4 linked regions of the Homo sapiens genome follow. The protein of the gene in region 4 interacts with the protein of the main gene of each other region in a pairwise test. Each region holds a gene or a part of one and is shown on either strand. Other genes may lie near its edges. The genes, in order: CSTF2, KRTAP26-1, HSF4 and FAM168B.

What was found.
Region 1: the proteins of FAM168B (region 4) and CSTF2 interact in binary tests that used the Homo sapiens proteins (3 or more experiments, as listed by UniProt).
Region 2: the proteins of FAM168B (region 4) and KRTAP26-1 interact in binary tests that used the Homo sapiens proteins (3 or more experiments, as listed by UniProt).
Region 3: the proteins of FAM168B (region 4) and HSF4 interact in binary tests that used the Homo sapiens proteins (3 or more experiments, as listed by UniProt).

Annotation. Positions count from the first base shown.
Region 1 is NC_000023.11:100,836,377-100,842,613, reverse strand, and holds the end of CSTF2 (cleavage stimulation factor subunit 2), read right to left. Parts: intron 5,276-6,237; coding exon 5,165-5,275; intron 4,376-5,164; coding exon 4,253-4,375; 3' UTR 4,250-4,252; intron 1,901-4,249; 3' UTR 1,094-1,900; downstream 1-1,093. UniProt on the Homo sapiens protein: One of the multiple factors required for polyadenylation and 3'-end cleavage of mammalian pre-mRNAs. This subunit is directly involved in the binding to pre-mRNAs.
Region 2 is NC_000021.9:30,317,508-30,324,813, forward strand, and holds KRTAP26-1 (keratin-associated protein 26-1), read right to left. Parts: upstream 2,809-7,306; 5' UTR 2,529-2,808; coding exon 1,896-2,528; 3' UTR 1,617-1,895; downstream 1-1,616. UniProt on the Homo sapiens protein: In the hair cortex, hair keratin intermediate filaments are embedded in an interfilamentous matrix, consisting of hair keratin-associated proteins (KRTAP), which are essential for the formation of a rigid and resistant hair shaft through their extensive disulfide bond cross-linking with abundant cysteine residues of hair keratins.
Region 3 is NC_000016.10:67,158,893-67,167,744, reverse strand, and holds the start of HSF4 (heat shock factor protein 4), read right to left. Parts: upstream 3,001-8,852; 5' UTR 2,934-3,000; coding exon 2,811-2,933; intron 2,224-2,810; coding exon 2,115-2,223; intron 2,027-2,114; coding exon 1,899-2,026; intron 1,800-1,898; coding exon 1,675-1,799; intron 1,426-1,674; coding exon 1,350-1,425; intron 1,188-1,349; coding exon 1,123-1,187; intron 626-1,122; coding exon 523-625; intron 285-522; coding exon of another isoform or gene 271-284; coding exon 146-270; intron 26-145; coding exon 1-25. Other genes in the region: FBXL8 (F-box/LRR-repeat protein 8), read right to left, coding at 3,925-4,897, 5,808-5,959. UniProt on the Homo sapiens protein: Heat-shock transcription factor that specifically binds heat shock promoter elements (HSE).
Region 4 is NC_000002.12:131,068,585-131,077,191, forward strand, and holds part of FAM168B (myelin-associated neurite-outgrowth inhibitor), read right to left. Parts: intron 7,786-8,607; exon of another isoform or gene 3,438-7,785; intron 3,355-3,437; coding exon 3,271-3,354; intron 1-3,270. UniProt on the Homo sapiens protein: Inhibitor of neuronal axonal outgrowth. Acts as a negative regulator of CDC42 and STAT3 and a positive regulator of STMN2. Positive regulator of CDC27.

The sequences.
Region 1 (6,237 bases), on a different chromosome or scaffold from region 4:
AGTAAAACAATACTGATGGTTGTTTACATAGGGAGGGATACCACTGCTGTTGCCAATTTGTTCACCCGGATTTCAGCTAATTCAGGTTTAATAAGGCTTTGGGAAAATGCACAATGAAACCTTGAAGACATGATTCTTATTAGACAACTACTGACCAAATGACAACTTCATCTTCAATGACCTTGATTTGGAATCTTGAAACTTACAACGAGTTCCTAATGAGAAAGGCATCACTCTTGGTCTCCATGTCTAAATATATTGACACACTCACTTCAAGATATGATGGCTGCCAAAATCAATATCCCAAGGCTTGAATATTTATGGGAGTAGGCATAAATTCGTGATTATATTCATGGTAATGAATATAATAAATCCTATGCATAGCCAACATCCAAGTTGAACTGGGGATGAGCAGGATACACAGAAAGCTCCTCACCTGCTTTGAGCAAGTTTTTCTTGCAAAGTTGTAATATGAAATACCTTAATCAACAAATTTCTTATAAATGTTTATATGAGTAGAAAATCCCTCAATTTCATTGTCACTCAAAAAGTTGATTATCTTTGCATTCTTTTGCTTGACATGTAAGCAATATGCTATTACATTCTCTAAGCCTATGCCAGGCTTTTAATTCACCTGACCATAATCCTAACCCAGGGGATAGAATTCCAAGAATATAAATTGGCTCAAAAGTAGTTCCAGTAGAACTTTACTGATTATTAAGGCAACTCTTAACCTCTTGAGGTTGGCCTGATAGAGAGAAACCATGTTCCTCCTTAATGCCACTACGAGAGAGATGGGGTTGGGGTGGGGGGAGAGGAGGAGGCGGCGGCGCGGCGAGAGAGAGAAATACTAGGCAATAAGACCCATAGATTAGAGCTAATGGCACTAATTATGTTCATACCTATCCGCAAGGAAGCAGGCAGGAGCAGACCTAATGAGCAATCTGACTGTGCTCTACATTTGGTCCACTTAAAATGAGAAGAATGTACAAGTTTTAGGGTTTTCTGTGTTGTAAGTTCCCAGAATAAACGTAGTTACAGGGTAGGGCTGCAGGTTAGGGACTGCCTGGAAGATAGGATGAAATGTATTTTGTTCATTTGATTTCTGTTTTTATTTCATCTTGAGCATGTGAAAAATCAGTGGCTTTTTAAACTTTCAAAGTTGACTGCCTAGACTGATAAGTTTAAGAACACACAAGTAAATGTCAACAGTCTCTTGTGTTGCTGACACACTCAAACCAGTGCTAAAACAATTTTTGTCTTAACTCTGAATTATACATGTTCAGACCTGCTATTGAAACAAATGCATTTTGATATTTGGATTTTTCTAAACTAAACACACAGCTGTGCTAGGCTCTTTGCTCTGTTAGCCTTCTGACCATTTTATAGCTCTAAGCATGTGATATTTTCTCCTAGAAGACTCCGAAGTGCTAGAATATTTTCAGAGGGCAAAGCCTTATAATAATTCTTACTGGAAGCAAACTAAACAAAAACCAAGTTCCAGAAAACATTGCTTCTGAGAAATTCTCAAATATCATCAAGAAGAATAAGTGGTTAACTTAAAAACAAAACTATGGCAATATGTTAAAGTACAATACTGCAGTAAGGGTAGAAAACACATCTAAGGTTTCACCCTTAGTGTTAAGCTTTTTAAAAGCAAAAAGGTCATGTGTATCAATTTGCAGTGTACTAAAATTGTGTTCAAAGTTTATTTCAAGTCACAGAAAATATACAAACTAAGACAATAAAATGAAGTGATTTTGTTCTGAGAGAAGGTGATGGGAGTCCTCCACCTGGCACTGATTTGAGTCATTCAAGGGTTAGGATGCAGGTCATCTTTTTTCAATATTTCAACAAAATTATAGAATTTCCAGATTTCTTGCCAGGTATTTTTGAAAACCTGTAAGAAGAAGTTAGGACAAAGCCATTAGAAGTGAAGACAAAGCTCTCTTCCGGAAAAACTTCAGGAAAAAAAATAAAAAGGCTAGGGGAGGGAGGACAGGCATATAATCAAATCACCAGGACAGATTTGCAAAGTATCTGTCTCCTGCCTCCTGACTCCTCAAAGCAATCAGCCCTTGCAGCAGGGTTTCTCAACCTCAGCACTACTGACATTTTGGGCTGGAGTACTAGTTGCTATTGGGAAGTGGGTGAGGGGGACCATCCTGTGCATTATGGGATGTTTAGCAGTATCTCTGGCCTCTACCCACTGAATGCCAGTAGCATGCCATACTCCCTAAAGTTGTGATGACCAAAAACGTCTCAAGACAATGTCACCTAGGGGGCAAAACTGCCCTTGTTTGAGAACCATTCATCTCTAATGACAACAGTATAGAAGCCTGTCCATGATGGCAGAGATGGATCACAACTAGCTAGGTATAGGATGGAGGAAAACCCAACACTTTAGCCATGGTATGCACAAACACCAGTAGACACACAATAAAATCTTGCCCACATAAAATTGCATAGAACCACACATACATATACACAAATCATGATAGTTTTTTTAAAATGGTGAAAACTGAGTTTGCAGTCAAGTTAACAGTAATGTGCCAATGTCAATTTCTTGGTTTTGCACTACACTGGGTGAAGGGTACATGAGACTCCTTGTACTATTTTTCCAACTTTCCTTGAGTCTATGATTATTTAAAAATAAAAGGTAAAAAAATAGACAAAAACTTTGCCTTGTGGTTAATATGCAAGGCCTTAAATTAAACATCCTATAAGCAAAACTATAATGAAAGAAATTTCAGAAACATTTCTACCTCTACTATCCAGAAACAGTAAGGAGTAATTTTCTCACATTGTAGGGAATGCCTTCTCTGGCTTAAGTAAATTAGTAAAAGAAATAATTTTTATTTATTCCTCTGAATGTAATAGGTAGTCTATACTTTTACTAAAAAAAAAGAATATGTGGGGTTTGTGGAATAAAACGTTAAGGTACCAAAAGTCTACTGAGCCTTCTATCTATGATAGCTTCTCATTAATTCATTTAAGGTCTAAATACATATATGATGCATAGTCGCAGTTTAAATGTTTAAAGACATCACAAGTATGGATTAAAATGATATATTTTGTAAGAGTGGTAATTATTAATAGTTAAATGAGTTCACTATTATATAACATAAGAATAGGAATTATAATATGGATGGGGTAAAAAGTAGAAATTTAAATTGTGCTGTCCTACCTGATAGTGGGGCAACATGAATTTTAAACTGTTTTTAGAAAAAAGAACTGTTTATAAAATACAAAATGCTGGGGAAATTTTTTTTAAAAAAGAAACACTGATACATGTATGTGTAATCAAGTTGTCACATGATTATTTATGAAGCAGGTTACCTGGATCCTTTTTTTTTTTTTTTTTTGACACAGAGTCTCACTCTGTGACCCAGGCTAGAGTGCAGTGGCATAATCATGGCTTACTGCAGCCCTGACCTCCTGGACTCAACCAGTCCTCCCACCTCGGCCTCACAAGTAGCTGGAACTATAGGCGCATCTCACCATGCCTGGCTAATTTTTTAAAAAATTTTTGTAAAGATGGGGTCTCACTATGTTGCTTAGGCTGGTCTTGAACTCCTGGTCTCAAGTAATCCTTCCACCTCAGCCTGCCAAAGCTGAGATTACAGGGCTCAGCCACTGTGCTTGGCCCCTGGATTCTTTCTGCCTAAATGATGAGCAAGAAAAATAAGGGTAGCAGGGTACAGCGATCTCCAAAATATATAGAAACTGATGGTGATGACGGACATTTACTACCTTAAATTATGTGCTACTATAGTTCAACATCAAAATATTCCCTATAAAATAAATACAAGAAACAAAATATTTACACATTTTATTGAAATGCTTTGTATTTTTCCATTTTGACAGGACAGTTTGGAATAAAATAATACAATTGATTGTAGAAGGATACACACCAAACTATATTTAGAGGTTTTGTCTGGGGAATGAGATTGAGGAAACAGGGCTTTTTACCTTTCACCTTCTACATTTCTGTATATGATTACTTTTGTTAAACTGATCATACATTACCTTTGTCATTAGGAAAGATTATAAGCAATTCAACAACTGAACAAACATTGTATAGCCTTACTCTATCCCTACAGGAGCTGACCTACTGAAGGGTAAAGAAGAGTCTAGCTGAGTGGATTGAGGGCCGCTGAGAGAACAATCTTGTTGGTTAAGGTTAAAAGTATATACCCAGAATAGACAAGGAGCTAGTCCTACTCAGATGGGGATTAAGTTTGCTCACCTATCAAGGTGCTCCAGTGGATTTCTGTATTTGTTCCTTTAAAATCAGGATACTCTGCCTTTGCTCAGGAGGCAACATGGCAATCTGGTCTGCAGTCAGTTGTAGAACCTGCATAATCAAAGCAGCCTGTGCAGAGGAAAAAAAAAAGGTAGTGAGTTTTAATGATGGCAGCTAAAAAATACAAAACAAAACAAAAAACCCACCACCAGCTTCTGTCCAAAAAGCTACTGTAGTGGGATATGAAGCAAAATGGAAAAAGGAAGAACATTTCACACAGAAAAAAACCAACAGCCCCCCTCCAAAAAAAATAAAAAATAAAAAAAAACTGGTGAGAAAAGGTACAATGAAAAGAACAAGTATAAATTAAAATACCTAAGATTAGACGATTCAAAACAGACAACTTCATGAACTCAAAGTTCCTGGAGACTAAGATGGTATCTGTGAGCCCTGGAAATCCTTCAAGTTTTAATCCTGTTTTGAAAGTCTCTCTTTTTCACAAATTTTAGCCTTTCCATCAGACATAAGCTCCCCACAATGGTCAAATATAAAAACAGAAAGATATAATCATGGGGAATCTACTATTGTTTTTAGGGATAAAGTAGAAAGGGAAGGAAAAAGGGTGTGGATTTTCAGGTCAATCTGGCCTGAACAAGAAAAACCTGCTATTGGCAGATGAGTGTGAAATATAAAATAAGCTGCCATTTACATCCACTTAAGAACTTCACATCCATTAGGAACTTCAGGACCAGACTCACAAATTTTCAGGTAACAAGATCATAAAAGAGTTCTAAGTTAGAATAAACATCACCTCCAAAGGGACTTTGAAGACCCAGGATCGTCACATGGTAACTGTGAAAAGAGGAATCAAAAAGGCTAGAATTGTGCATAAGGAGGCAGTCAGACAGTGTTGCTTACCTTCTCATGATCCTGTGGAGTGACTTGGTTCTGCCCGGGACTAAAGCCGCCAGGCTGGCTTCCACCCTGTATACTTGCTCCTTGCATTCCTGTTCCCTGCATGACTGGGACCTATGTGTACAAAGAGAAAAGAGAGATTTTTGGCATTTTTAATGTATAGGTAACCTGAATTCAGTAATAATGTGACAAATTATGATCTCTATACAGATATGAGTAAAAAAAGCAAATCAATGACTCTGAAGATCATTTTCTACTGTTAGCAATAGCAGAAGGCAGGGTTTAGCCAGAGATCAACTAGCAAGTTCGACATACTTGCTTACAACACCTCCAGCATCATCAACAAATATTACACAGCACAACTGGATACCACTGAATTAATCAAAATTCAGCCAAATAAGCACAGTGAAAACTGAGAACACCCTGGAAACTAGTGCTCACTGGAAATACAAATGAAAGCCAACAGAGTCTAGAGAAAATGTATGCTGGTCCACTGGGGAAGTTACATTCACAGGGCCACCCCCTACCCTAGTTCAATCAGATACAGGTAGTTTGTCCCAAAGGGCCCTATCCCACAAGTGAGGCAGAGATGTTCATAATGTCAGAGAGGCAGAAAGGCAATGGGAAGGCCTCCAGGAAAAAGACTGCTATTAGCCCAACATTTGCTGTTTATAGCTTTCCATAGAGAACATATGGCAGATGCTTTCTGCTAAATGTAGACCAAAAAATATGACTGACTGGAGTGAAAAAACCAAGTACAGTGATATCATACTTACTGGTACTTAAGATCTTCAATGAGTTCAACCCTTTGCAAGACTACCAGAACCCAAGGAAAAGACCTCTTGAGTACCAAATCTAACTGTTAGAATGTCCCTATACAAGCATTATGTTCACACTCAGGCATTCACCCAGAGCTTAGGTACTCTCTTAATAAACACATATTGTTAACAAACTTGTTACCTGCTTACCCAGCAGATTAGAAGCAGCAAAACATAAAAGAAATACGGATAAATAACTGTTAGGAGCAGATACCACTTCAGTAATATGAAGAGCCAGGTGACGGCCTGACAGTGAAG
Region 2 (7,306 bases), on a different chromosome or scaffold from region 4:
CCTTACACATATTGCAGAATAGAAATAGATACAGATGTGTATTAAAATATAGCCGAAGAATACAAGAATATTCTGTACACTAATTCTAATAGATCCAAACTAGAAACAACCCAAAGGCTCATCAACAAAAGAATGTATAAATATATTTTGGTGTTTTAACCTTGAATATTATGTACACAAAAAATTAAAAGACTACTGGTACATATAACAATATGGAAAAATCACACATAATATTTAGTACAAGAAGACAGACACCAATGGGTAAATACTTTATAATTTCATTTTACAGTTCAAGAACATGCAAAAATTAGTTATGTATGTTATATGTTAACTAAAATCTCATTTAAAATGATGTTAAAAATAACAGTTCAACAAGATTAACAGTAGACATATGGCTGAGATAAAATTCAGGCTGAGCCAATGTGTGATTAGGGTAAGAGGCACAGAGAGGGCCGGGGAAAGGCTTCAAAAAATAGGGGATACAGATGTCACAAAATCAAAATATCCAGGAGAGCAAGCAAATAAGGCAAATAATGAACCAGAATGAAATTAACAACAGTGGCATGATCATGATAGTAAGTGGAACTGGCATTCTGCTTCATTGTCAGGAAGTCTCTAGGGCAAGATTGAACTGAGAACCAGAAGTGTGTGCCCTGTCTAAAGGGAACAGCTGGGAGTTACTGCGAGCTGCCTGCCAATCACTTTCTTGCACAGTGATACAGTTTCTAGCTTTTCTAGCTATTCCAGTTCCTCAAAAAGGTAAATATTCAGGCTTTTAAAACTTTATTTCCTTTTAATTAATGAAATATATGCCCCCACACATTTTAGGTTGAGTGAGAGAAAAAATGTATCTTTAATTGTTACATGTCCCATAGCTTATAACTTCTGGCAAATTCTGTGATAGTTCAGGACTGTTTTGTTCACCTCAGTATCTTTTGTGCCTGGCATATAGTATGCAAGCAGTACCTTTGTTTCTGAATAAATCAAAAGATTAATTAATGAACTCAAGACTGTGTTTTTGTAAAAGCAAGTATGAGTTTTCAAAACAGAGCTGAAGAACATACCGCTCTCGATGATGACCTATGCAAAAGGATGGATGACTGTAAAAAGCATATGTTTGGGGACCCATGTGTAAGTCAGGATCGCAGGAGCTTAGTTTTATTATTTGCAATATTGAGCAAAAGAGCATGAAGCCAGAGAGGTATGGGGGAGAAAGACAGTGAGGGAACTAGGTGTCATGCTAAGAGGTTTGAATATTTATCTTATGGGAATAGATTATAGGAAGCCATCAAAGGCGTAAGCAGAAACTTGGTTAGGTTTGCAATTAGAAAGAACATTCTGGTGGAAGTGTGTTCATGGGGTAGAGAGATAAGAGACATCACTCCTAATTTTTCCTTTTCAAAACAGCTTTCCCAAGGACTTTTTGGGTCTCTCAAGTACATAGGGTCAGAAGTCTAAAAAGCAGCTTAAGGAATAAACCATCAAACAATCCCTCTACTGTCAGGTAAGAATATATGGTTGAGTATCACTTGTCCAGCTCAGTCATCTTGCAAGCAATTGACGTTGGTTATTTCTGTGTTGAAATTAAGTCATGAAACACAAAGCGCTGAACCAGATTCTTAATTTGGACTTAATCGCATTTATTATAGTGCAAAACAAATACATTCTTCCCAGACCAGAGCAACATTGAATAGCATTGTAAACTAATTTTTTTGATGTCAAGGAAAGATGAAAACAAGATAAAACATGCGAGAGAAGCAGCTTGCATTAGATCAGGCACAGTAAAACTAAGAAACATCAGTTGCTACTAGCAAAGAAGCAAAAGTCCATGGAGTTTGAATTTTTGTTGTGGATGCTCAGAGTGATTATTCACTGGAACAAAGAAGCTGCTGGTTTCACAGTCCAGAGCAAGATGGACGACACGTGCTGAACACATGGGTCAGAGGTTGGCAACCACTGAACAGAGGCCCCAGAGGTCTGAGGCTGCTGGACACAACGTGAAGACTTTGAGGACGATAGGCCAAGCAACTCGAGGGTTGGCATCCAGAAGTGAGGAGGTTTTGGGGCTGGCAACTCTTGGACAAGCAGAATTGGGGGCGATAGGCATTGGGCACACAGTCTCCTATGGGCTGGTAACTATTGAGCAGCGGCCTCAGTGGACGACAGCCGCTGGACACATACCTCTGTGGTCTACAGGATACTGGAAGGCAGGAACTGGAGAAGAAAGAAGCAGGAAGAAAACTGCTTCCTTGGCAAGGCCTGGGCACGTAGTAAGCAGTGGAAGAACCGCAAGAGGTTTCAAGATTGCCGGTCTCACAGTGGACCGGCTGGCAGCTGGTTGGTTCACCGCAGGTCTCTTGGCAGTTGTCTGTGACCCAGGTATGGTCTTGAGAGCTAGTGGGTAAGTAGAGGACATCTCCACAGCTCACGCTGGTAGGGCAGAGGTCGATGGAGGTGAGAGGAATATGGCGGGAGGTTCTGAGAGATCCTGAGTTGGAGTTTCCCGAGCAGTAGTTGGGGCAAGACATAGTGAGGTTGTGAGAGCAGGCTGAAGTTGAGGCAAAGAAGTGAGTGTCTGAAGTTTGTTCTGCCCTTCCTTAGCTTGACCCTTTATTTATCCCTAGAAGGTGGTGCTTCTGCGTGCAGACTCTTCCTCTTGTTGTATGAAGATGCATCAGAACTCTTTATTATAGCCAAGGAAGTGAGGCTTCCACCCTCCATAAAACTGGATGCTCCTTGCAATGCCATCCATTGATTACGTCTATCTATAAACCAATGCGACTGAGTTTTAATAGGATCTATCCTTCTTAAATTATCCAAACAAAACAGACACATTTTAAAGCCTATGTGCTTATTCCAATTATAACCACCATTGCACAAACATTCTTAAGATTCCTCTCTTAGAATTGTCTTTGAAAGTTGTAGCAACTTCTTTGAAACAGTGAGAACTTACATCTTTTTGAAGAAAAATTCTATTCTTCTTGGAAATTGCCAGAAGTGAGTAACTTGGAACAAGTATAAGAGAAAATGAAAATCCTTGCAAACTATATGACAGAAATATGGACAATTTCAATATGTTTTGCTTGGTTAGAATTTATTTTTCTAAGTTGTGATTTGCTTTATTTCAGAATTCTATTCAGACTTGACTTTCTACCAAAATATCTTTATTCAAAAATATGTGCTCATTTTAGTCATTTCAATAAATAAATAAGCTGAGTGAAGCTGAAACCTTGGCTTATGTTTAAGATATTCTTGAATATAGATAATGAAGTTGGGCCAAGTTAAAATTATGTATCCTACTGTGAACAAAAGCAGAGAAGTAGACCTCTTAAAGAAAGTCAGGCATCTTGACATTTTTCATGATTATTTCAAGGTTATGTATTGCATGGTTTCTCATATTCCAACTGAAAAAATATTGTTCTTGGTTAAAAAATACACTGATTATGACATGAATTTATTTTGCTTTCTACATTGGCCTTGATGTCAATTTCCAAAAAGGAGCTTCTAAACTGCTTTACATAGGGAAAAGCATCAGGATAAATTATTGTTTTCCTAAGTTTTAGTACTTTAAAGGTCATTTGAGAATATGTATTTCTGGTAAAATTGTTTTAAAAAATGTATGATTTTAGTTAGTTTCAACTATCCCTCTATATTTTTCTCATACTGACATACCCAGTGGCTCCAGTAGCTATTTTAATGGGATTTTAAATTATCTGCTGGCTCTAAGTTCCAATTCCTTTTGGCTAGTCAATTTAAATCATAACACTTTCTTCTATTTTGGTGTTTGAGGGACATACTTGTGCTTATCCAGTCTCCCTCTGTCCTGGAGGAGTGAAATCTCTGAAACAGAAAGTTGGTTTCTCAATGAGACAACACTAGACTATTTTACTACTGGGGGAGAAATATAAAAATAAAATGGTATAATCCCGGAGGTCCTGTACTAACATGTTGAATTTATCTCAGTATTTTAGGTCAGACGATTTGTACCTGATGTATTTGAGAAAGCCCCACTCACTCCAACCCCCAACCCCAGGCCCTCATCACCTAATACTGTTTGTATAACCGGATACTTTGTATACTTCGGACATCACCTAATACTCTGTGTATACAGCTGCTAGAGTCTTCTTGTAAAATCCTGGTTGCATCAGCTGAATGGCGTTAGTAATAGGTACAGTCATATTTAGCTGAATGCTTATGAAATTGTATGTTGATCCTTTTTATGTCTGCTCTTCTCTAATATAAACAAGAGCCCAACATCTGTATCATTAGTACATCAATACGCTTGTGTGTATGTGTGGATAGATGTATATACTACATGTTCTATGTATACATGGATGGTTTTCCATGAAGAGAAGGGGTGTGGAATAAGAGGAAACTGGCATTCATGGAATGCCTACTCTGAAGAACCTTGTGCTGTGGGTGCCCACATGTGCCATTCACTTTGTCCTCACAATTCTATACAGTAGATCTTACTATTTCAAGTACTCATACGAGAAAACTTGAGCTTTAGAAAGTTGCAGTAATAGGTATTACGAAAAACATCTGAAAAAAGGCTCCTTGACTCCCCAAACAGTTTTTCTCTATCCAATATGGCATTACATAGAGATGCATTGATACTATCATTTAATAACCAATAACCGTGTGAATTGGGTAATTTGCATAATTGCTCTGCTCCCCAGTCACTATCAGTATAATTTTATGGAAATATTAATAGTATCTACTTTTCAGTGACATTTCAGGAATATATTGAGATGTCATTAAAAGTTAAAATAAACTGTAAAACGTTATACAAGAGTAATCTATTTTCTTGCTTTGGCGTTCTTAACCCATTCTGGAGAGTACGACCTTGGGTTTAATTTCTTTAGAGCACCACCATGAGTTTCTCGTGTGTGTGTGGGGGGGGGGGGGCGGTGGGGGGGTAAAATTGCAAAAATATCAACAGATCTTCAGAAAGTGAAGTACCCTGAATATAAGTTGTCCTTCATGTAATATAGGTTGAACTAAAATTATTTCATAGTGGCTGTGTCACTAATAGAGAATTGCTTATTTGGGCATAATACCAGGTACCTCATTAGCAGGATCCTATAAACTACATGTTTCAGACTTCTCTTCTGAGTTAAGAGCCCAGGGATAATCGGAGGAACTGGGCATCCTGTGTGATTTCCCAGATTTACCCATGGCGTTGCTTTTTTTTTTTTTTTTTTTTTTTTTTTAATAAACCATGGATCTTTGTCTCTCCTACTGTAGAAGGAGAATTCTGAGTTTCTCTGTCTTGGAGACAAAAAATCCCCAGAACATTTCAACAATAAAGTTGTGCCAATAAACAAGGTACTTTTAACTCATCCATTCAGCAAATATTATTGAGCATGTAGTATGTGCAAAACATTATGATAGATGCTGGCAATGGAACCAACATAAAATTGGTTTCTGCTCTCAGATGTACACTATCTGGTAAGCGTGATAAGACAGGTACATAACCCATGTCAGTGTTTACTAAGTTCCGTAAGTAATGTACAGAGAAGAGCAAACATAGTTCATTCACCTTACCAAAAATTTAACATTTGATATTAATTTTGAAAGATGGAAGGGGCTTTGGAGAAGAGGAAAACACTTTAGGCTATGGAAGAAGATGTCAAGGTAGAGAAAATGACAACATAGAGCTTCCCAGTGAAGGATTCTAAGAAGCAAACTCATATTCACATGTTGAAATTACTGGGGGAAGTAGTTAAGATATTGTTCTAAAGGTGTGGTGATCCAGTAATGTGTTTCAAGAAGAGAGTGCTGAGGTTAATTTGCAGCATAGATTGGAAAGTGGGAAAACCTGTTATGCTTTTCTCCCTTTATCTTCTAAAATTATATATTTCTTTCCATTTTTTTCTTTCTGTTATCATGGCAATGATTTAAGTTGGGCTTTTTTGTTCTCCTTCAGTGAATTTCCTACTGCCACCTTTGACTTCTGTCCCTATGGTCTTCTATTTTGCCTAAATAATGCATTTGAAATAATACTCATGAAATTAATTTCATCATATGATTCTCTTTCTCAAAAAAGTGGATGATTTCTCTTTGTCAACAGAGAATTGTTCTGACACTTGTCTGGCCCTTCTCTACTTCCCAGTAAAGATTCTCTCCTACTTTTTTGGGTTGCCTGTTAATATTTACTAGTTCTAATAGTTTTTTGGTGGAGTCTTTAGGGTTTCTAATGTATAGAATCGTGTCACATGCAAACAGAGACAATTTTACTTCGTTATGATTTGGGTGATTTTCTTTTTTTTTTTTTTTCTGACTAATTGCTCTGGCTAGGACTTCTAGTACTATATTGAATAGAAGTAGAAAGAGTGGGCATCCTTGTCTTGTTCCTGATCTAGGGAGAAAAGCTTTTAGGTTTTCACCATTGTGTGTTTCACCTGTGAGTCTGTCATATATGGACTTTGTTATGTTGAAGTATATTCCTTCTGTGCCTAATTTGTTAAAGTCTTTATCGTGAAAGTTTGTTGAATTCTGTCAAATGCTTTTTCTACATCCATAGGGATGATAACTTTTATCCTTCTTTCTGCTAATTTGGTGTATCACATTCATTGATATGCATGTGTTGAATCATCCTAGCCTCCCAGGAATAAAATTCACTTAATCATGTTGTATCATCCTTTGAATGTGCCATTGAATCCTGCTTACTAGTATTTTGTTGAGGACTTTTGCATCTATCTTAATCAGGCATATTGGCTTCCAGTTTATGTTTTCATTTCTGTTTTATCTTTTATTATCCTTGACCAACACTAGTATCAGGGTAATGCTGGTTTTGTAAAATAAATTTGGAAATGTTTAAAAAACAACAAGCCTTACTTCTACAAATCTTCCTAATTTTATAAAAAATTTTCTATTTGACTTTTTTCTGCTCTATTTTTTTTTCTTCTGCTGACTTTGGGCTTAGTTTGTTATTCTTTCTCTAACTTCTTGAGAAGTTAAGTTGTTTGAAATCTTTCTTTTTTCAGGTAGGTATTTTTTGCTGTAAACATCTTAAAATGGTTTTCGATGCATTCCAAAGTTTTGGAATGTTGTGCTTCCATTTTCATTGTCTCAATATTTTTTAATTTCTCTTTTGATTTTTTCTTTGATTTATTGGTTGTTCAGTAGTGTGTTGTTTAATTTTCACATATTTGTGAATTTTTCAATTTTCCTCTTGTTACTGATTTCTAGTTTGGTGGTTTAATATCATTATGGTTGGATGTTTAATATGATTTTAATTTCCCTAAGACTTTTTTGGGGGCTAACCCATAATCTATCCTGGATAATATTTAGTGTGTGCTAG
Region 3 (8,852 bases), on a different chromosome or scaffold from region 4:
TTTGAGCAGTGCCAGGCCCTTCTCCCTGCACCAGAGAAAAGCTTCAACCAGACCCTGGCACTGACTTCTCCCTCTACCCCTACAGCCATCTGGGCTGCCAGGCCCTCCCCCACAGGCCCCTCAGGGGCAGCCCTGTCCCCCTTACCTCCTGCCATCACTGGAGGGAGAAAGCCTGGTCCCCTCAGGGGATGGAGAGTCTTCTGGGATGTCAGAGATGATGGGGCCCCTGGCCCTGTGAGGGCTAAGGCCCAAATTTGTCTCTGGGAGAGGCTGTAAGTAGAAGGCTAGGCCCAGCCCTTGGCCTGTAGGCACAGGGAGAGCCAGAACCCCACCAACACCCACCTGGGCCAGGTCTAAGGGAGAAGGTTTGAGGGAGGAGGCTCAGTCCATGCTGGAGGGCCTGGGTCTGGTTGGGGGGAAGGCTGGCTTCCATCTTCTCTTCCTTTTAGGGGATGGGGAGAAGGAACAGGCTCTCCATAAGCCCAGCCATGCCCTTGGGAAGGGGGAAGAAGACAAACCTACCGACTGGATGAAGTAGGGGTCCTGCAGAAGGGCACCAGGTAGAGGGCAGGTGTTGAACTTGGCAGGTGTTGGGCATGAGCTCCCCTCATCCAGCATCAGGGACCTGTGTGGTCGATCAGGGCACAGGCAGGGGTGGGGCAGGGTCAGCCCCCATGCACCTCGGCCTGCACTTCCCTCCCTCCCTCAGGCCCCAGCAGCCAAGTCAGCAGAGCTGAGGCCTGTTGCTAGGGTGTCAGTCACATGCTGGAGGTGGAAGGGGCTCCCCCTAGAGATGGGGGCCCTTTGTGGGTAGAGAGGGGAGGGAGGGAACCTGGTTTGAGCCCCAGGGTCTCAGCTGTTGGGAAGCCTTGCCGGAGGGGGAAGGGGCTGCTGGGGTAGGAATTTGGGAATAAGGTCCTGGAATGGGAGGATCTGGGAGTGGGGATACCAGGTGGCAGAGTTGGGGGGAAGTGGATCCTAGATGGGGTGAGGAAGCCTGTAGCGCAGGGGGAGGAATGAGGATTCCCGGTGAAGGAGTTTCCAGAGGAGAAGGGGTCCTTGCAAGGGGACTTCTGGGGGGTCTTGGAAGTGGGTGTGGGCCTTCTTGGCTTTCTCACTCACAGCTTTCTCTTGCCTCCTGCATTGCTCGGCCCCGCCTGAAGTGGCCCAAAGAGACACTGGATCAGCTGAAGAGAAAGCAAAGGTTTAATTCATACTTTGGACACAGCCCCCCCACCCCCGCACTTCCAGGTGAGGGAGGAAGGCTTAACAGGGGCGCCGGGGGACTGGGCGGTGGAATGGGGTGTCGAGGAGTGGGAGGGAGAAGCGAGGCTTGGGGAGAGGAACACCTTGCCAATGACCCGGTGCTGCTGACCGTGGCTCTGCCGAAGTGTCACCACCTCCCGCCACAAGATCTCGTTCTGCCTGAGGAAGGGGTGGGAGGGTGCTGAGGCATCTGAGAGTTCGCCCAGTCACCACCCCCCACAGAATGGCGAGGCTGGGGACCCAGGAGACCACCCCGCTGACTGGCCATCCCAGAGATCGCCCATAAGTCTAGATGGAGGCGCCAAGGCAGGAGAGAGGAAGGGGCTGCCCAGAACTGCTGGCCGGCCAGTTATGGTCTCATCCCGAACCCCCCACCCCTGTCCCCTCTTTCCCCGCCCGCCCCCGCACTGCCTGAGCTCCCGCAGCCGCGCCTCGGTGCTCTCCTGCACTCCCCGCAAAGCCTGCACCTCGCCCAGTAGTCGACCCAGGTCCTCCGGGCGCCAGCGGCCGTCGTCGCCGCGCAGCGCGGGCACCTGCAGGCGGGAGGCACCGTCGGGACTGGGTCGCAGGAGCAAGGCAGGCAGTCCCAGCACCCCTCCTCCTCTTTGCTCATTCCCGCAGGCCGCCCCCACCTTGCGCCGCACGCGCTCCAGTAGCTGCTCGCGGCCGCGCACGAAGCTCGGGTGCTGGAACTCGACGTGGTCGCGCTCCGGCCTAAGCAGGCCGCCCTGCTCGATGCTCACCACCTTCCGAAAACCGTCTGGGGAGTGGGGCGTGGGGGCGTGGGTCGCCCCATCCCCGGCACCGAGTCCCCCATCCCCGCTCCCCGCCCGGCCGTAGGGACTCACACATGTTGAGTTGGCGCACGAAGCTCGCCATGTTGCTATGCTTGAAATACTGGGGCAGCACTTCCTTGGCGAAACGGCTCTGGTCGCTTACGAGGAAACTGGTCCCGCTCTACCAAGAACGCCGCCCGCCCACCGTGCGGGCGGAGACCAGGAGGGTGAGCGGTGCCCGCTCACGGCCAGTCCTGCGCTCCAGCGCGCGCACACACTCATGCTCACTCTTGGGTCCAGGCCTGCCGCTTACGGGGATATGGGTCGAGGCCAGGCCAGAACGGGCTCCGAGGCCTAGCCTGGAGCGACCACAGTGAGTCCCTACCCCCAGCCAGACCCTGACTCCATACTCAGTTCTCAGAAAGGAGAGGCTGACGGGGTTCCCAGCCCCGCAATGTGACCCTGAGCTAGACCAGCCCTTCCCATCTCCCGGCCTCTGTTTTCCCATCTGTCGGATGGGGTAGGGTGGGAACTAAATGGCCTCGAAGGTCCCTCGGACTCTAGGTCTTCAGAAGGCAGGCTCCTAACCCTTCTTCGGCCGCAGAGGAAACCCCCCTCTCGCACACCCCCTCCAAGGTGAACTTCTCTGAATGGCCAAATCCGGGGATCCACGGCCCAGTCTCAGGAGGGGGTTGGGCGGGCATGGGTGTTCACTGACGTGGAGGGACCCCGGGACCACAGGGGGAATCGAGGGGCCCCGGCCCTCACCGGGCTCCAGCGGATCAGGTGGTCTGTGCCTGGGTCCCCCACCAGCGCCCATAGCTTGCCGAGGAAGGCAGGCACGGGGCTGGGGCCTGGCTCCGTGGGCAGCGCAGCTGGCGCTTCCTGCATGGTGCAGTCTCGGCCCGGCTCTGCGCTCGGGCCCGGCCGCTGCGGGCTCGTCAAAGCCGCGGAAAGTGCTGCGTTTGCCGCCCGCTCCGCCCTACTCCGCCCCGGGGCGCCGGGTCAGGCGGGGGCCACGTGCAAGCCCGCGGGGCGGGGCTCGGACAGCGGCCGAGGCACCAGCAGGCAGAAAAGGCTGGCTGGATGGGATGTGTGGAGTGGAGTGGAGTGGAGGGGTGGGGTGGGGTGGAGTGGGGTGGGGTGGGGTGAGATGAGTGGGAGACTTGGGTTCGAGTCCCACCCCTCTCGGTCCCTCTATTTCCTTCTTTGTTCTACAGGAGAAATCGCCGGTGCGCGACCTGGTGTGGGCTGGGCAAGTCCTAGAAGGTAATGGCCAGAGGCACAGTGAAGCCCCAGGCAGGGCAAGCAGATAGGAAGGGGGGGCAGGGAAGCACGCCCCCTCCCGCCGAACCCCGGGACGTAGTCATTCCAAGGGTGTGAGTGCCCCGACCCTGACCCCCCGCAGCTGTGTCGTCCAGAGGCTCTTGAGGAAACCCAACCTCTGCCGGGATGGCTCCTCCGGTACCCCGCGCGTTCCCTGTCCTTCCCTTTCAGATCCGACCCCGCCTTTAATAGGACGCAGAAACACTGCAGGATTTGTTTATTTCACACTCACCCTTGAGGCCCGGCCCGCGCCCGTGCCCTCCCTCTCCCTGCGCCGGGGCCGCGGAGCTGCAGAGTCCGCAGAGGGGTGGAGGCAAGAGAGGGGGGCAGTGTGTCCAGGACCGAGCGGGTGGGGCGTCTGCAGAGGGTGAGAGCAGCGAGTGGTCTCAGGGCGCCCAGGACTGGTCCCGATGCCATCACAGTTCCCAACTCGGTAAAGACCCGGGGGGCAACAATCCCAAAAGAAGGCACTAGCACTCGGGGCGCGCCTGGACACCCCCCCCGTTCCCTCTCAGAGCGCTTACGTCCACGGGGACGGGGGAGAGAAGTCGCCCAATCACGCCACGAGCGTAGGCCTCCAGGGATGCGGCTCGCGCGTGAGCTTGAGGGTATAGGTGCGCAGGCGCGGGCAGTGCGCGCGGAAGGCGTCCAGCACCGAGTGGCTCACCACGCAGAAACAATGCACCTCGCGCAGGGCCGCGCAGCGCGCCGCCAGCTCCTCCAGCGCGGCGTTCAGCTCGGCCGAAGCGGCTGCGCGCACCTCGAGCGCGCACAGGGTTGCGGCGTAGTGGTGTGCTGCGAAGCGCACTGGGCCTACGGTGTCGCCTGAGAGGTTGAGGCGCAGCGCAGCCACGGGGACGGCTGGCTGCAGGACGCGCGTCACGCTCTCAGCGGGCAGCGCGGGCTCCAGCTCCAGCTCCACTGCCAGCCCAGGGTGGCGGCGGCGCAACGCGACCCAGGCTTCGTTGGGCAGCGGGGACGCGCGTGCATCTTCGGGGCACGCGCACCGCAGAGCCAAGAGCGCGAAAGGCGCTCGGTCTGGCGCCGCCAGTGCTTCGAGGATGGCGTGCGACAAACTGGCTAGGTGCAGGCCGAGAGCGCGCAGGCGCGGGCAGGCCTCCAGTAGCTCGAGCACTGAGCCGGGACCCACGCTGCCCACTAGGGTACTGTTGTCCAGAAAAAGGCTGTGGAGCTCGGGACAGCTGCGCGCCGCCTGCAGCACCAGCGCGTCGTCCAGTGTGAAGGACAAGCGCCGCAGGTCGAGGTGGCGTAGCTGGCTGGCCGCCCCGCATACAGCGTGCACAGCCTCCAGGACGTCGCGGCCCGCGTCGAAGAGCGGTTTTTCTCCGCGGCACTCCAGGCGCAGGCCTCGCAGCCCCGGGGCACGGCCCGCCAGAACCATCAGCAGCTCGATGGCCGCCCGGCGGCTCGGCTTCCTCGATGGCTCAAATTCCAGCCGTAGGTTGTGAATGTGGTCGAGGCAGGCGGACAGATAAGGTGGCAGCATGCCTTCCAGCTCACATTCGCAACTTGGGTTAGAGCCGTGCAGAAAAGGCCTCAGCTGAGTCCCTGCGACCAGCGGAGAAGCCTCTACCCACCCCTTAGCTGGGGTTCCAGCTGCCATCCCATTTCCTGCCTCCCTCCCCACGTCTCTGTTCAGACCACGACTGTTGCCCCAAAGGAGGGAACTCGCATCCTATCCTTTTAGAAGATTTCAGTGGCGTCTGCCACAGGATGAAACCTGGACATGGAGAGCCAATGATATTTTAGGAACTGGGCTTTCTCAGCTGTCTCTAAGGAGTCTTGGCATGGCCTCCGGACTGCTAGGTTCGAATTCTGCCTCTGCCATTCCCTAGCTGAGTGACCCGTGGGAAGTGATTAAGTCTCTTTGCCTCAGTTTCCTATCTGGGCAATGGAGGTAATGATAATACCTATCTACCACACAAGGTTTTCATAAGGATTAAATTAGTTAATATATGTAAGGCACTTAAAAACAATGGTTGGTATATACTAGGCAGTCAATACGTCAGCAATTATTATTATTATTTTGAGATAAACTGTTACTCTGTCGCCAAGCTGGAGTGCAGTGGTGCCATCTCGGCTCACTGCAACCTTTGCCTCCCGGGTTCAAGCGATTCTTGTGCCTCAGCCTCCCGAGTAGCTAGAATTATAGGCGCCCACCACCATGCCCGGCTAGTTTTTGTATTTTAGTAGAGACGGGGTTTCAGCATGGTGGCCAGGCTGGTCTCAAACTCCTGACCTCAGGTGATCCACCCGCCTCGGCCTGCCAAAGTGCTGGGATTACAGGCATGAGCCACCACGCCCGGCCAGCAATTATTTTTTAATATGGGGGAGTCAACCTGAATATCTACCTAGCCCACGACTCCACGGAGAAGGTGAGTGGGCGGTGGGGAGAGGAGTGTGGAGGAGCAGGCTCACCTGATTTTTGTGTCGTGCCACACGGCGCTGCAGGTAGCAGCGGCGGCCCAGGCCCTGCAGACCCTGGCGGCGGCAGCACGGTCTCTCAGGGACAGGTGGCGGAAGATGAGTGCCAGCACCTCCTCTGGCAGTCCCTCTCCAGGCTCGGCCATGGCCCAGATCCGGCTGGGGTGGGAGGATCCGCCACTCCCAATAGCTCCGGCCTGGAGAGAGACGGACGTCTCTGAGGTCGGGAAGGCGCAAAGTGTTGCAGGAAGACCGAGCTTAGGTGTACAAATGCTTGTGGCCTGAGGAACTGAGGGCCTCTCAGACAGCGTGGGGCATCAGATAACCCCGAAACTTGTTCACAAAGCAGATTTCACCGCCTCACCTACTAAATCAGGCTCTCCGGAAAGGGTAAGGCCCAGGAATCTGCATTTCAACAAGCCCCTGTGACTCCACAGGTTCCACGTTGAGAACTCCCCTCCCACTTTTTTTTTTTTTTTTCTTTTTTTTTGAGACAGGGTCTCGCTCTTTACCCAGGCTGGAGTGCAGTGGCGCAATCACAACTCACTGCACCCTCAGTCTCCCGGGCTCAAGCAATCCTCCCACCTCAGCCTCCCGAGTAGCTGGGACTACAGGGGCACGCCACCACGCCTGGCTAATTTTTGTAATTTTGTTGCAGAGACGAGGTCTCGCTTTGTTGCCCAGACTGACCTCGAACTCCTAGGCTCAAGCGATCGGCCCGCCTGGGCCTCCCAAAGTGCTGGGATTACGGGCATGAGCCACCGCGCCCGGCCTGAGAAACCCCATCTTAACCCCGCCGGTTAGTAGAAAGTGACTACAGGGTTAATAAGGCGGGAGCGTTAATGTAGGCTTTTCTTTGTCAGGGACCATGAGCCAATCAGGAAGCGAGGCGTGGGCGGGGCAAAGCTGGATCCACCCCTGGAGGGGAGGCTCCTTCCCCGCCTCCGCCTCGCCGGGGAGATGTCCCGGGTGCTTCCTAAGACAGCCCCACTGGATGAAAAAAAACTTGGGTCTCTGGGACCTGACGGTTCTGGGGCCTGAGGGGCTCAAGATTTAAGTTCCGACCCCTGAGCAGCCCTGGCTCCCGCTGAGCAATTTGGGTTCGGCTGGAACTCCGCAGACCCACCCTGGAGCGCAGCCTTTAGAGGGGGATGGGTTACTGGAAAGTGTGCGTCCTCTTTGAAGTTGCCAATCCTGTTTGTTTTTGTTTTGTTTTGTTTTGAGACGGAATCTAGCTGTGTCGCCCAGGCTGGAGTGCAGTGGCGAGATCTCGGCTCACTGCAAACTCCGCCTCGCGGGTTCAAGCGATTCTTCTGCCTCAGCCTCCCGAGTAGCTGGGACTCCAGGCGCGCGCCACCTCGCCGGGCTAATTTTTGTATTTTTAGTAGAGACGGGGTTTCACCATATTGGCCAGGCTGGTCTCAAACTCCTGACCTCAGGTGATCCACCTGCCTCGGCCTTCCAAAGTGCTGGGATTACAGGCGTGAGCCACCGCGCCCGGCCGCCAATCTTGTTTTAAGGTTCTTAAAGGTTTGTGTACACAAGGCTTCACACTACTCGCCAGTTAATGTTCCCATATCTTCCGGGCTAACAGTTTCTCCCGGAATTTGTGCCACGTGTTTCCTGGGGCTTCAGATACGTTCGGCCGGGCTTGTACCTGGGACCCATGGGCACCCCGTTTTGAGTGCCCACTGGTAGCAGCGATCTTGAAGCCGGATCCCCAGGGGTACCAGAAAATTCTGGTCTCCAGGGGGCGCCCCCTTGATTTACCGAAGTCTGGCAGCTGTAGCTCTTACGAGCCCCCCGCCTCGTAAGAATCGCAAACCCCCAAAGTCGGGTCTTCCTGCCGTCTAACCTTGGGCGCTGGTGTCTTACCTGCTCGGCGGACCAGATGGGCTTTGCCCGGGGCAGGGGACTGGCAGCAGAGGACAGCGGACGGGAAGCAGCCACCGGGAGCCCGCGGGGCGGGACGCGCGGGCGGACGGGGCGGCTCGGGCTAGGGCACCGCCCCAGCGCCTCCGCGCACACCCGGAAGCGGCGGAGTAGAGCGGAGCCTGGCGGGCGTGGGAACCCAGGCCCCGCCGAGGCGGCCAGGTTAGTGCAGCAGGTGGGTGGGTGGGCTCCCCGGTGCGGGCGGGAGAGGAGGTGGATCTTGGCTCCGAAGCGTGGGCGCGGCGCAGATGTCACCGGCGGCTGCTCCAGCCAGCTGGTGGCGGCGGTCTACTGAGCTGTTCGAACACCGTGGGAGGCGGGGGACGGTACGGAATTTGGCCCCCGCAGGCTCCTCGTCCCTGCCAGCACTTTCGAGGTGCAGTAGGGCCCTGCAGGAGAGAGGGTGGGGGAGAAGGGGCTGGTTCTGAATACTTTCCTTGAGCGGAGACCCCCTTGCCCACCCCAGCCGATCGCACGTGCGAAACCCCAGCTTGAGGGTGGGCTAGTGGGAGCCTGGGAAGCTCCCCTCAAGCGCTCGGGAGCTGCGTAGCTGAGTAGGGGGTGTGCCCGGCGGGTCGCAAGGAGTCACAGGCTTTCAGTTCTGGGCCACGCCCACAGGCTGTCTCTGTCCACCCAGCCAGAGGTGGGGCTGCCCCCGGGACTGTTAGGTGTTCAGGGGGCACCGTGCGTGGCTCGTCCCTGGAAACAGGCGCAGAAGTTGTTAGGTCGGTACCTAAGCGCCCCACAGTCTCCGGCCACCAAACTTTCTCAGGACCCAGCCTGGAAGCCTCAGCCCCGCCCAAAAAGGGACGACTCCTGGTGGGTGGGGCGCGGGGCTTCCCAAGGAGGGGCTTCCGTGAAAGAACACGTAAGAAGAGCTGCCAGTCGGCGGATGCGAAACTAGGGCCCTGGCCTCTTTACCCTGTTAACTCGACCTCCAGCCTGGTTCACCTTCCCCATCTTCTAGTACTAGTGAGTGTGAGAAAGCATCCCCAGTCTCCAGGTTCCCAGTACTCCCCACCTCCCCCTCGACCCCCACAGACCTGATGGGCAGACAATGGTCCTGTTCGGTCCCCACTTCCACCCCTTGGGGTGGGACCATAACCA
Region 4 (8,607 bases):
CAAGGTAGGCCGTTTGGGCAGCTGCAGTTGCTACCTGCCTGTCCCAGCTTCTGGATTACAGGAACAATTTGAGAGCAGTCTTGGAAAAGGGACAACACAGGCCTTACCTCCCTATGAGAAAGGAGAGATGTTCGAGAAGATGGGTGACAAGCTGGGCATGGTAGCTCACGGCTATAATCCCAGCACTTTGGAAGGCTGAGGCAGGAGGATCACTTAAGCCCAGGAGTTTGCGACCAGCCTAGACAACATAGTGAAACCCATCTCTACAAAAAAATAGAAAAATTAGCCGAGTGTGGTGGTGTGCACCTGTAATCCCAGCTACTCGGGAGGCTGAGGTGGGAGCATTGCTTGAGCCTGAAAAGTCGAGGCTGCAGTGAGGCGTGATTGCACCACTGCACTGCAGCCTGGGCGACAGAGCAAGACCCTGTCTCAAAATAATAATGAGATGGGTGGCCCATGTTCCACAGGGTGGCCCCCACAGGCACCCAAGGGGGGAAGGTGTCAGCAGCACTCAGTCTCCACCCTGCCTCTGCTAGGCAGTGCTGCACATTTTTGGCAAGAACAGCTCTCAGCCTGAAATTAACTCAAGGTTCTTCTTGTAAAATAAAAAAGTTGAAAGTTTTAAGTACATTTTCACACTGATTTGTGCTCCATGAAGAAATGAGTAAAAGTGGGCTACCTCTGAAAATCCTAGAAGAGTAACTTACGTTATGGTGGTCTACGGCATGATCATCACATGCCACATTGATACGTATGCCAAAGATATAAACTTCAATCCATTCCTACCATCATACACAAAAATTAACTGCAAATGGGTCACAGACATAAATGTAAAACCTACAAGTGTAAAACTTCTACAAGAAAAAAGAAGAAAATCTTTGTGAAGTTAGGTTACACAGGTTTCTTTCTCTTTTGTTTTTTTTTTTGGGGACGGAGTCCTGCTCTGTCGCTCAGGCTGGAGTGCAGTGGCGCAATCTCGGCTCACTGCAAGCTCCGCCTTCCAGGTTCTGGCCATTCTCCTGCCTCAGCCTCTGGAGTAGCTGGGACTACAGGAGCCCGCCACCATGACCAGCTAATTTTTTGTATTTTTAGTAGAGAGGGGGTTTCACCGCGTTAGCCAGGATGGTCTCGATCTCCTGACCTCATGATCCACCCACCCCGGCCTCCCAAAGTGCTGGGACGACAGGCGTGAGCCACTGCGCCCAGCCAAGTTACACAGGTTTATTAAGTATGGTACCAAAAGCATGATCCATAAAACGACTAACCCTCATCAAACTTTTTTTTTTTTGGTTGAGACGGAGTCTCACCCTGTCGCCCAGGCTGGAATGCTATGGCACGATCTCGGCTCACTGCAACCTCTGTCTCCTGGGTTCAAGTGATTCTCCTGCCTCAGCCTCCCTAGTAGCCGGGATTACCGGAGTGCGCCTCCAAGCCCAGCTAATTTTTGTATTTTTAGTAGAGACGGGGTTTCACCACGTTGGCCAGGCTGGTCTCGAACTCCTGACCTCATGATCCACCCGCCTCAGCCTCCCAAATTGCTGGGATTACAGACGTGAGCCACCGCGCCCAGCCTAAACTTTTAAAACCCCTGCTCTTTAAAAGACGTTGTTAAAAGAATGAAAAAGCCACAGACTGGGAGAAAACACGCATATATCTGATAAGAACTCTCAAAAACTCAACGATAAGAAAACAATAACTGACATACAGTAAAAGCAAATTCTTCACCAAAGACATACAGAAGGCAAATACGCACATGAAAAGATACTGCTACACATTCACTAGAATGGCTAGAATTAAAAAGACTGACCACACCAAGTGTTGTTAAGGATGTGGAGGAACGACAACTCACAAACACTGCTGGTAGGAATGTAAAATGGTACCACCACTTTGGAAGACAGTTTGGCAGTTTCTCACAAAGTTAAATATACACTTGCCATAATAACCAGCCACTCAAATCCTCTGTATTTATTTACTCAAGAGAAATCAAAGTGTATGTTCACACAATAACCTGCATATAAATATTAATAGCATTTTCATTTGTAATAGCCCAAAATTGCAAATAACCCAAATGTTCATCACATGGTAAATGGATAAGCAAACTGAAGTATTTATTTCCATACAACAAAATACTACCTAACAATAAAAAGGAATGAACTGCTAATATACACTACGAGATGGATGGTTCTTTCAAGGCAAAACACAAAAGGAAAACCACTCTAAAGGGAAAAAATGGGCCAATATGGCAAACAGCTAGGGACTGAAAGTCGAGACTCTAGGCATAACTGTGTCTCACAGTCATGGGAAACCACTGAGAAAAATTCATCTGGGAGCATCGCTCTGGTTTAAATGGGAAGAACACTAACCCGGGGAAAGAAAGCTTGGGAGCAGGAAGACCAAGTCAAGAACGTTTTTCTCAGGGTGTGAACTACGGTCTGAACAAGGGTGGTCATATAGGGTCATAGTGGAAGTGGAAATGGAAACGAAGAGATGGATGTAAGGACAGAATATAAAGGCAGAATTTTATGATTAACAAAACAGGAAGAATCTGGGGAAAGGACACTGCTGTTGTCTCCTCCTCTGTCAAAGTTAACTGTGTGAAGCTACTGTTGAGGGATAAAGTTGCCCCAGCAGTCCCAGGATTAAGGCCAAACCACAGCCTCAGATCAGAGTGTGCACCACCACTGCTGCGGCAGAAAGGCAAAGCCCCGTGTGGGTGAAAAAAGTCCAAAAGGAACCAACACCAGAGAGTGCAGGCTCCTAGCAGGAAATCCCACTAAATAACCAATCTCCTCAAGATTCAGACCCAAACCAATTCCACTTTTAATATTAACAGTGATTTCCAAAATCTAAAAATATTCATCTATACATTACATGGAAAATAATACTTTTTTAAAAAATATTATCAGAGTGCTAAAGTAGTCTAACCAAAAATTATCTCTAAAAACATTAACATGGAAATTCCACCTGTTGGCATGGCAAGAAATTCTTCAATTTCTAGTAGGTGATACTATTTCATGAACAGATGCTCTGGCAGAGTTAACAACCTAGTGATTACAGATTTGCCTTGTGGGAGGACATGAGAAACACAGTATATAAAGCTTCAGTGCAGTAAGAATTAAGCTTTTGTTGCACTTATCAACAGGCTAACTTAATGAACTTGAGAAATCGACTCAACCAAGTCCTAATTCTATACCCACCCCTCTCAAAATCCACCCCTTCACCTTTCTCTCCCAGCTGTACGTACAAAGCATTTTACCACCCAGCACATACCTGTTTGGAAGGTAGGATTCGCTCCAGGATACATGTTAGGAGAATAGGCAGGAGCTGCTGCTGCATAGCCCATGGGAAAACCAGCTGAAGAAAAATAAAGAACAATCTCATGTCATCAACTGAAGTAGCGACAATCACTAGAGCTCCTGCAAAGCCATCGCTCTTACCTTCTTCCCCAGAACTCCACAGACTTAAGCAGCCCCAAGAGCACTATGTGTGGCCAACAGCATGTCTCTAGTTGTCTTCTTCCCGCAGAACTTTGTTTTTTTTATCGTTGTCGTCTTTTGAGACAGAGTTTCACTTTCATCGCCCAGGCTGGAGTGCAATGGCATGATCTTGGCTCACTGCAACCTCTGCCTCCCAGGTTCAAGCGATTCTCCTGCCTCAGCCTTCCGAAGAGCTGGGATTACAGGTGTGTGTCACCACACCTGGCTAATTTTTCTATTTTTAGTAGAGACGGGGTTTCATCACGTTAGCCAGGCTGGTCTTGAACTCCTGATTTCAGTTGATCCACCCGCCTCGGCCTCCCAAAGTGCTGGGATTATAGGTGTGAGCCACCACGCCTGGCTTTCCCTCAGAATTTTGATAGGTAACAATTATATATTTTATTTTTATTTATTTTTTGGAGGGGGACAGAGTTTCACTCTTGTTGCCCAGGCTAGAGTGCAGTGGCGCGACCTCGGCTCACTGCAACCTCCGTTTCAAGCGATTCTCCTGCCTCAGCCTTCCGAGTAGCTGGGATTACAGGCATCTACCACCACGCCCAGCTAATTTTTGTATTTTTAGTAGAGACAAGGTTTCACCATGGTGACCAGGCTGGTCTCGAACTCCTGACCTCATGATCCACCCACCTCAGCCTCCCGAAGTGCTGGGATTACAGGCATAAGCCACCGCGCCAAGCCTCAATTATAACATTTCTGGAAGTTTCATTCCAAACTCTAATCACATAATTACTTAGCAAGAGTAGTAAGAGTGCTAAGGGTATCACACGCTAGGTCCTGTTACCCTCATCTGACTTCACTGCACAAAGTCTGGAAGAATCAGAATTCAAGTCTAGCTTGGACTCAAGGGCCTATTTTTGCTGCTACCAGTGAACAGCTAAGCCTATGTAAAGGTCACTCATTTTCACTGAATTCCGACATTTCCTACATTACATATTTTGACTTAAAAGCTATTATTTTTTGTTGTAAGAAACTGTTTTAAACTTCTAAATTCATTTCAGGTTTTTTCACATTCTGATGTTCTTTTTTTTTTCTAAGACAGAGTCTTGCTCTGTTGCCTACGCTGGAGTGCAGTGGTGAGATCTCGGCTCACTGCAACCTCCGCCTCCTGGGTTCAAGCATTTCTCCTGCCTCAGTCTCCCTAGTAGCTGGGACTACAGGCGTGCACCACCACGCCCAGCTAATTTTTGTATTTTTAGTAGAGATGGGGTTTTGCCATGCTGGCCAGGCTGGTCTCGAACTCCTGACCTCAGGTGATCCACCTGCCTCGGCCTCCCAAAGTGCGGGTATTACCGGCATGAGTTACCACGCCTTGCCATATTTTGATGTTCTGATCCCCAACTTCTCCAGCATGACCAGCTAATATGTTTTCATATGTCCTCTCCAAAGCTCACGTTAAAATTTGTCATTTTAACAGCACTGAGAGGTGGGACATTTAATAGGTGACGGCTTTATTATGAAAGTGGGTTCCTGATAAAAAGGACAAGTTCAGCCCCCTTTCTCTCTGACGCACTCGCTGCCCTTCCACCATCCATCACAAGAGGATAGAGCCCAAAAGCCCTCACGAGATGCCATCGCCATGCTCTTGGACTTCCCTAACCTCCAGAACCAAGAGCCTAATAAATTTCTGTTCATTATCCAGCTTGATATTCTGCTAAAGCAGCAGAAAACAAATTAAGACACCAGTCATAAACCCAGGCTGTGTCTTACTTAAGCTTCAGTCTTCTTACAGAAGGAGCTCTAACTGGGAATGCATACACACAGAAATGGGAAAAATCCAACTACAGTCCACGTGCAAATAAGCTGACCTTTATTAATACAAATGAGGAATCTTATTAAGACTAAACCATGACCTAGTAATTCATAATATGAACGAAACAGAAACATCAAATAAGACATTGAGTGCTACAGTCAGAATCCTGGCCCCAAGGTGCAACCAACAGAGGGGGCCTCAGGCATCTGCCCTTTTCGATAAGGCCTCCCTTCCCTTTGGGCTGACCCCTCTGGCTCACAGTACAGGAGGCATCACTTGTGACAGCTGAGGTATTAGAAAGTATTCTCTCTTTTTTTTTGAGACAGAGTCTCGCTCTGTTGCCAGGCTGGAGTGCAATGGCGTGATCTCGGCTCACTGCAACCTCTACCTCCCTGGTTCAAGCGATTCTCCTGCCTCATCCTCCCAAGTAGCTGGGATTTCGGGCACACGCCACCATGTCCAGCTAATGTTTGTATTTTTAGTAGAGACGGGGTTTCACCATGTTGGCCAGGATGGTCTCCATCTCCTGACCTCATAATCCGCCCTCCTCGGCCTCCCAAAGTGCTGGGATTACAGGTGTGAGCCACTGCACCTGGCCAGAAAGCGTTCTTTCTATTTGGGGCACACAGCCAACAAGATGACTCAGGTTTCCTAGCCTTGATTACTGTTCCCACTAGCTGTGAGAAGCTGTAACTTCTCTACTGCACACTTCCTTCACCTGTAAATAAAGTTGAAAGAGAAGAGCAGTCTTCAAAAGAAACTGTGTTGAGGAGGCCTGGAGAAAGGTGTCTCTTACAGCACTTGGACTGGGATTTTTAAGGTGTTACGATCCCTTAGGAACAAATCATGGTGCTAACAGTAACCAAAGCAAGGAAGCCCTAAGGTTGAGGTAAAAACAGGGGGGATCTGAGTGGAATGCCAAAAGGAAAATCTTTGTAGGTGGGACAGAAAGTTCTGAATACAGCTCCTCACGTGCCTCCCTTCGGCCCCCTCAGCCTGGATCCCTTGCTCTATTGCCCTGCATCCCTAAGCCATCTTGCAGGTTTCTGTGGGAACAGGAGGCATCAGTGTCACCAAGCCCTAGCCCCAGAATCCCTCCAAGTGCCCAGTTCTCATCTTTATCCTTGCTTCAAAGTTGCTTTCCTCACTTCAAACTGATCCCCCTCTACCTCAGCAGAAGCCATTCCGGGTTTCCCTCCTGGACTCTCACCCTCCCGTTTGCCCTCTCTAATTAGTCAGAGAACAGAGTGTGGTGGACGTCAAGGGCAGATTCAACTTCAAAGAGACCCACAATGGCCACTGGAAAGACCAGGACAGCAGTTCTGGGGATGCTGAGAGACTCCTCAGAAGCCCAATTGTGAGCACAGGAAGACCAAGAAAGGTCTGGAACTGCCCTCAGAGACCAGGGAACCAGCAAGATTTTTTTTTCCAATGGTTTCCTTCTTTTAAAAAAAAAAAAAAAGTTTCAACTACCACTGACCTAGATCATATCCTGTAGGCCTCTGCAATAATTTCCAGAAATTCCAAATTCCTCATCTCTCCCTAAAACTCTACCAATATATTCTCATGGGAAGAGGGCTGCTCTGGATTTGTTTGCTGAAGATTGTGTTTAACGGTCCCTGAAAAACTACTGTCTTCTTTGCTTAGTCCTTCCCATCCCCACTTTCTTTCTTTTTTTTTTTTTGAGACGGAGTCTTGCTCTGTCGCCCAGGCTGGAATGCAGTGGCGTGATCTCGGCTTACTGCAAGCTCCGCCTCCTGGGTTCACGCCATTCTCCTACCTCAGCCTCCTGAGTGGCTAGGACTACAGGGGCCCGTGCCCGGCTAATTTTTTGTATTTTTAGTAGAGACAGGGTTTCACCATGTTAGCCAGGATGGTCTCGATCTACATACCTCGTGATCCGCCCACCCCGGCCTCCCAAAGTGCTGGGATTACAGGCACGAGCCACCGCGCCCGGCCCCCCAGTTTCTAACAAGAAGTTAACACATCCTATAATGAAACAGCAAACACACACGATAGTATTTAAGATGGCATCACTAGCCACCAGCAACAAGATGCACTACATACCTGGTCTCTGGTATGGGGATCAAAGACTCCCAATCTCCTAGACAGCCTCTGCTGCTTCCGTGCTCCCATCGCCTCATCCCATCAGCCACATCCCACTTGCTCTGTCACCACTCTGACCCAAGCCGCAGCGTGGCTCCCCTCACTATCTCCAATGGTTTCTACCTGGACTGCACAAAACCCACAGGGGCAGCTTTGGGAGGACCCCCAACACTGCTTTAGCTGGTCTCGGGTGCACCAGCCTCTTTTTTCTCATTCTCTCCAGACAGTGAATCTGCAGGGTTCCAAGCAATGGAGTTAAGAATCACTGTTTCTTCCTATTCCTGATCTTTCTGGGTACCCCAACCCCCAGCAGACACAGAGACCGTCTCCTTCAGCATCTATTCTAGCCCTCTTCTGGCATGGTAGGCTGGAAAGGCCAGACTCCCTACATCAAGGCACCAGAGCGATCCCAAACCTGAATCATTTCTACAAGACTGATCACCTTGGCCGGGCGCAGTGGCTCACGCCTGTAATCCCAGCACTTTGGGAGGCCGAGGCAGGTGGATCACGAGGTCAGGAGATTGAGACCACGATGAAACCCCATCTCTAATAAAAGTACAAAAAAAAAATTAGCCGGGTGCAGTGGCGGGCTCCTGTAGTCCCAGCTACTCAGGAGGCTGAGGCAGGAGAATGGCGTGAACCTGGGAGGCGCAGCTTGCAGTGAGCCGAGATCGCGCCACTGCACTCCAGCCTGGGCAACAGAGCAAGACTCCGTCTTAAAAAAAAAAAAAAAAAAAGACTGATCACCTTACAAAAGTAAAAGCTTCAGAACAGCAAAAAATACCATAGTTAAGCAAAAGGACAAATTCAGATAAAGTATCTAAATTATTTAGACAAAGGGCTAGTACACTTAATACGTAAGTAACTTTTAAAACCACAAAAACAAACATCCCGCCCCACCCCCACCACTCAAATCAATAGACACAGATACACAGAATTGCAAACTACAACTACGCTGACTAACTTCCGACTAGCAGAAATCCAGAAGCTGGAAAACACATTCTGTTAGCCAGGCTGTGGGGAAATCGTCTCACACTGCTGATAAGAACTCAGCAGTATCCTAACAATCACATGTGCATTTGCTCTCTGACCCAGCAACCCCAGCTCTAGGAACCCACCCTGAGGAGAATTCCCAGAGTCACACAAACATAGGGCTGTTCACAGAATCATTACTAAAATAGCACACACTTCAAACAACTCCAATGCCCATCACAAGGAAACTGGCTCAATCAACTATGGAAGCCCACAAGATGGAGT